Regions from separate parts of the Homo sapiens genome. Here region 1 is linked to region 2. Evidence: fine-mapped expression QTL. A gene starts in region 2. The other region holds a variant in brackets. All regions are shown on one strand. Distances are between the middles of the regions. Region 1 holds the start of S100Z (S100 calcium binding protein Z). Region 2 holds the start of CRHBP (corticotropin releasing hormone binding protein).

The links. PIP is the estimated chance that this variant, and not a neighbour inherited with it, causes the effect.
Region 1: its variant is fine-mapped to the expression of CRHBP in whole blood (TOPMed, PIP 0.97).

The regions. Positions count from the first base shown.
Region 1 is chr5:76,848,624-76,851,530 of GRCh38, reverse strand. S100Z (S100 calcium binding protein Z) reads right to left here and starts at 1,517. Exons shown (of 5, transcript NM_130772.4): 1 at 1,376-1,517. The variant C/T (reference allele first, on the strand shown) is at 1,645.
Region 2 is chr5:76,951,673-76,954,579 of GRCh38, reverse strand. CRHBP (corticotropin releasing hormone binding protein) reads right to left here and starts at 1,535. Exons shown (of 7, transcript NM_001882.4): 1 at 1,365-1,535; 2 at 886-979; 3 at 394-551. The coding sequence starts at 1,445. It also overlaps a transcript of S100Z not described here. RefSeq lists an enhancer at 123-809.

The DNA of each region.
Region 1 (2,907 bases), 100 kb after region 2:
CCTGGCCCCTCTCTCTCTCTCATGCAATCAGTTGCCAGGTTGTATCTCCTCACTCTCTGTTCCTTCCTCCTCAACCCTAGCGCCATAGTTCAGGCCCTTGTCACTTCTGGCCTGAATTACTGCATGAGATCCCAACTCACCTCCTGCACCTACTTTGCTCTTCTTCAAAATTAGCCTCCCCTGCCTGCTGGGAGGCACACCTGAGCTCCTCACTTAACCTCCTGGACAGGCCCTGCCATCCCCTGGCTAAATCTAAACTCCCCGCAGTGTGCCCACCCATCCCCTCTGCACCATCTGTGCCGCACACGTGGCACTGCCACTGTGCTGCCCATTCCTCTGCTCAGGTGCCAGTCCTCCAGGGAAGCCTCCGATGCCCCTCAGCTCCTGGGAGCACTCCGCCTCTGGGTGCCCCTGTATCACCTCATGCTTTCCTCTAGACCTGCACCGGCACTGGGTTGAAGGAAAATAATAGTAGCCAACGTTAATTAGCACATACTCTGGGCCAAGCACCCTTCTAGGCAGTTTAAATGTATTCCTTTATGTCATCCTCAAAAATCCCATGAGGAGGCTGGGGAGCGGTGGCTCATGCCTGTAATCGCAGCACTTTGGGAAGCCAAGTGGGAGGTGGAGGTTGCAGTGAGCTGAGATCACACCACTGCACTCCAGCCTGGGTGACAGAGTGAAACTCCATCTCAGAAAAAAACAAAAAACAAAAAAAACTTTATTTCTCTGTCTAACCCAAATTTTGTGTCCTCTCACCAACTTCTCCCCAGCCCCTCCATCCCTCTTCCCTCTCTTCTTCTGTAGGCTGAGAGCAGCCATTCCAGGGCTGATTGTCCAGGCATGCCCAGCACTGGCCAGTGTGAAGAGGAGGAGCATAGACCACTGCTGTGACTTCCTGGGAGTGGGCTTACACTGGCATCTGTGCAGGCTTCAGGAAAAAGAAGCGAAATCACGGCGTGGATCTAAGGGGCCAAGCCTCACCTTGAAGGTTCTTCTGGGTCTTTGGCCTGGACAAGAACATGAAACTTGAATTTCTCAAGGTGAGGTGAAGGCCAAGCAGGAAGCCAGGATGGTCACCAGGAAAGGAGCCAGAATGAACTAAGTGTTCTTTAGGGCAAGGAACTTACCAGAACCTCTACGCTCCGAGCTATGATCAGGCTGCTCTCTCCCTCTCTCTCTCTCTCTCTCTCTCCCCCACCCCCCCGACCCCTTTGTGGCCAAGGTAAGGCCACATTTTAGAGTGGAAGCCCCAAGGCAACCCCCCACCTCACAACCTCCACTCTTGTTGCCCTCTCTAATCCAACGCCTGCCAGGCTCACACTTCAACCACTAGACTGAAAAGCAAGAATCTTCCACAAAAATAATCTTTTACCTTAGACCTGCTTCCTGTGCAGATGAGATAAGGAGAATGCTCTTGTCTGAATTTCTGGGCGTGGAGATTAGCAAGCCGTTTTCCTCCCAGCAGCTAGAGCGAGCAAGAGGCCCTGCTGTGAGTAGTGCTGTTCTGAGTCTGCGTGGTCCAGACTCACCACACTGCAGGCACGTTTCTTCATCAGGTGGGAAAGCAGGAAGAGGTTTAATTTAGGACCTAAAGCTGGTATATTGCTGAGTAAAAGAAATGGGAAGGCACCAAGTCTCTAA[C/T]GAAATTGCGCTGGGTGCAGTGGCTCATGCCTCTAATCCCAGCACTTTGAGAGGCTGAGGTGGGTGGATCACTTGCGGTCAGGAGTTTGAGACCAGCCTGGTCAACGTGGCGAAACCCCATCTCTACTAAAAATATAAAAATTAGCCAGGCATGGTGGCGGGCGCCTGTAATTCCAGCTACTCGTGAGGCTGAAGCAGGAGAACGCTTGAACCTGAGAGGCAGAGGTTGTAGTGAGCTGAGCTCGCCGCTGCCCTCCAGACTAGGTGACAGAGCCAGATTCCGTCTCAAAAAAACAAAAAAAAAAGAAAAAGAAACTGCTTGTGATCCAACACTCCCCCACTGGTGCCTCCTCATGGTGAAGAGCAATTACTCTGGCACCAGAGTCTTGGGGTTCAAATCCTTACTTCACCAGTATGTGACTGGAAAAGCTACCTAACCTGCCTGCTGAAGCTTCATGGCTAATAATTCCTCACAGCATTTCTTTTTTTCTTTTTTTTTTTTGAGACAGAGTCTTGCTCTGTCACCCAGGCTGGAGTGCAGTGGCATCATCTCAGCTCACTGCAACCTCCACCTCCCTGGTTCAAGCTTCTGCCTCAGCCTCCCAAGTAGCTGAGATTACAAGCGCCCACCACTAAGCCTGGCTAATTTTTGTATTTTCAGTAGAGATGGGGTTTCACCATGTTGGTGAGGCTGGTCTTGAATTCCTGACCTCAAGTGATCCGCCCACCTTGGCCTCCCAATGTGCTGGGATTATAGGCGTGAGACACTGCGCCTGGCCCAGGAGGAATAAGTTTAAGAGCTCCCATTGTACAGCATGCTATCTATAGTTAATAACAATATATCGTGTATCGAAAATTGCTAAGACAGTAGATGTTAAGTGTCTTTATCACCCCCAAAAAATGACAAGTATATGGGGCAATTAAGTCAAATAGCTTGACTTAATAATTCCACAATGTATACATAAATTAAAACATCAAGCTGTATTTGTATACCATAATATATACAATTTTTACTTGTCAATTAAATAAATAAATACACAGAAAAGGGCAGAGACAGGTCAAGAAGCACAGCACTCAGTACAGAAATACAGATAACAATATATTGAAAGAAAGAATTCAAAGATAAATTTTTTTTTTTTTTTTTTGGAGACAGAGTCTTGCTCCATTGCCTAGGGTAGAGTACAGAGACACAATCACAGCTCTCTGCAACCTCAACCTCCCAGGCTCAAGTGATCCTCCCACTTCAGCCTCCCAAATAGCTAG
Region 2 (2,907 bases):
CCGCTTGGTGGACCCCAGCACTCGAGCTTGTTGGGTTTTAATCATTTTTCCTCGGCCCTGGATTGCGTCAGAGTTCCGCGCTGCGAGTTCAAGTCTTTAGAAGTTCCTAGGGCCTCGAAAGCGCCCAGAAGGGAATTTAAACCATGGCAGCGTCCAGAGGCACCGGCCCCAGCCCCACTGGATGTGTGTGGGTCGAGGTCTTCGGGTAAGGGCGAGATTCTCGCCGTGTGGGGGTCCTCGAACGCGCCTCTCCGACTCGGGCACCAGCGAAGTGTCTAAGAAGTGCCACTGGCTACCTACGCTCAGCAGCCCCACGCTGGGTGCAGCGCCCCAGCCCTTTCCAACCCTCCCGTGCCGCCCTCCGGCTAGGTTGGCTGGCCGTGGGCGCCTCACCTTCAGGAAGTCGCCGCCCTGACAGTCGATGGAGACCTGGTCGTAGTGGATGGTAATGAACTCCTCGGGCTCGCTGATGAAGAAGGCTGCGCAGTGCAGCTGCGGCCGGTCGGCGGTGAAGGTGAACTGGCCCTGGAGGCTCAGCATGTCCAGGCACCCTGGGGGAGGAGGGCATGGGGCAATAAGTCCCGGGCTGCAGCCGCCGCAGCGCCGTCCTCGGGCGGCCGCTCTCCGCGCGCCCCATTCCCGGGCTCTGTAGTGCCCAGCGCCCCGACTTCCAGCCTAGGCTGCGCTGGGTTCCTGCGCCCCGGGCGCGCCACCCTCTCCCGCTCCTGGCGCGCCTCCGCGGACCGATCCTTAGCTAAGGGGACCGCGCCCCTGGCGGTTCCGGCCAGCCCCTTCCCCGAGATGTCCGCGAGCCCTCTGCCCCCCGCACAGAGTCCCACCTTCCCCGCGTCCCGGGCGCCCGCGAGCCGGGCAGCCTCGACTCACGCAGAGCGCGGCGGTACGGCTGCTCCCCAGCCAGCTCCCGCTTCAGGTTGGCGCTGAAGAGCAGGAAAGGATCGTAGTCCGCCGCTTCCCTCAGCTGGCAAGAAACATAGGTCAGTCCGGAAAAGTTCAAGGGCTGGGGATAAAAAAGGGGACCAGGAGCGGGGCACCCTCCCTGCCACTCAGCATAGCGAATAAAGAGAGAGGGGTAATGTTTTCCCGTGTCCGGAGAAGACGGGAAGGTCTTAGACCCTCTCCATCAGGCCAGGGTATCCCCAGCGGCCAGAGGAAGGCAGGCAGGCAGTCTGGGATGCTCAGAGGCAAGGAGGGAGAACAGGATAGGGGAAACCAGGGGCAAGACAGCATCCAGCAGAGAGGGAAGAAACAGCGAACCCCAAAAGGCTGCGAGCAGAGGCAGCCTGCCTGCCGCCTAGGGCTAACACGCAAGGAAGGTGAGATGGGTCAGTCCAGGGGTGGCTCACCTCTAGGTACCGGCTTTCCCCTCTTAGAGCCGTCAGGAAGATGAGAATGAAGTGACACTGAAGTTTGAAGTTGGGCGACATGCTGGCCTTGCCTCTGCAGCTGCTGTGCTCTGCTCCGGAGGTCCTGGGCTTTCCTTCCTACACCCTCGCGCAGACTGAGAGCTAGAAGCTGGTAGGGTCCCTTTGCTGGGTCTCTTTTATAGAGCAGTGGGGAGCGGAGGCTCTCTGCCCCTTAACTGATCGGAGCTCAGTAACCATGGGTTACCCTGTCTCATTGACAGAGTACGTGGCGATGACGAGGGTCCAGCTCTCAGCCACAAATTTTCAGCGTGGCCCAGCATTATTCACCAAGAATGATTTCAGTCACTACAACTTAGTGCACTAAAGTGTTGGAGAATGAGGCGGAGACAAAGAATAAGGGAGTGCATTTTGTTGACCTGCTAAATGCTACATTATACTTTTCTGTGGGCATTCAGGGAATTTTCCATTTTGCAAATCAAAGTGACAAAGTTACATACACGCATAAAATACCCAAACATATAGAGCCTATATTATGCAGCCTCATCACATAACCTTGGATGAAACCATGCTAGAAATTGTCAAAGAATTTAGTATTCATGGAATTTCTCATGTCTCTCAGTAAGAAACTTGAGGCATTTTCAGCTTTAAAGAGGTGGAACAGAAGCAGAAGTCTGATTTTGCAGAAGATTGCAGTAATGCAATTATAAGCTTTCTTCCTGCCCCTTACTCTTTGCTTTATCCTGGTCCAGTTTCTTATAGGCATTTCTTTCATGGAAAACTAACTCTGGTGTCAGGGGACTTCTGGATTTTAGCTGAGCTCTGTCACTTGACCTGGATGTTTACATGATGTACACACTCCTAGACCAGGTAGCTGTAGCCATGACCTTCGCATCCATCTGAACCACTGAGAGATGAGATTAAGTCATTCCATTTCGTGCCTTCAAATACCTGGATTACTTTAACACTCTGGTAGAAGGAACTGCCAGGAAGCTTTATTGTAACTGCTCACCAGCAAATTTGCAGGGCTAAAAAGATGACTTAGGGATCCGGAAATAAGTATAAGCTTATCTCTGCTTATCAGGAGAGAAGAGAATTTCTTCTTTGTGTCCAAAACTGTGGGAAACATGAGGATGCTCCACTATTGGCTTTCCTACCCCTTTCCAGTCTCTGCACCAAGCATTGTTATTACAATTATTACAAATAGACCATAATACAGAGTTATAAAGGAAGGAATGGCTATATTTTCAGTTTTAAAATACTCGAAATTAAACAGTAATTATCCTGGCAGTGTCAGAACTTGATTATTTTCATGTCAGGACAATTCTGAGCTCTGGAGAGGCGGCCTCTTTGTTGGTTTAATCAGGAGGCCTTCGTGCCACAGTCCAACTTTGTAAGCAGTCCTCAGACCACAGACAGTGAGAGGGAAAAGAGTACCTAAAGCTCATGGACACTGGCCACCATGTCCTTCTCATCCCAAGGGCTGTTTAGATGCCTGAATTTTGAAAAGGTTATAAAGAAACCT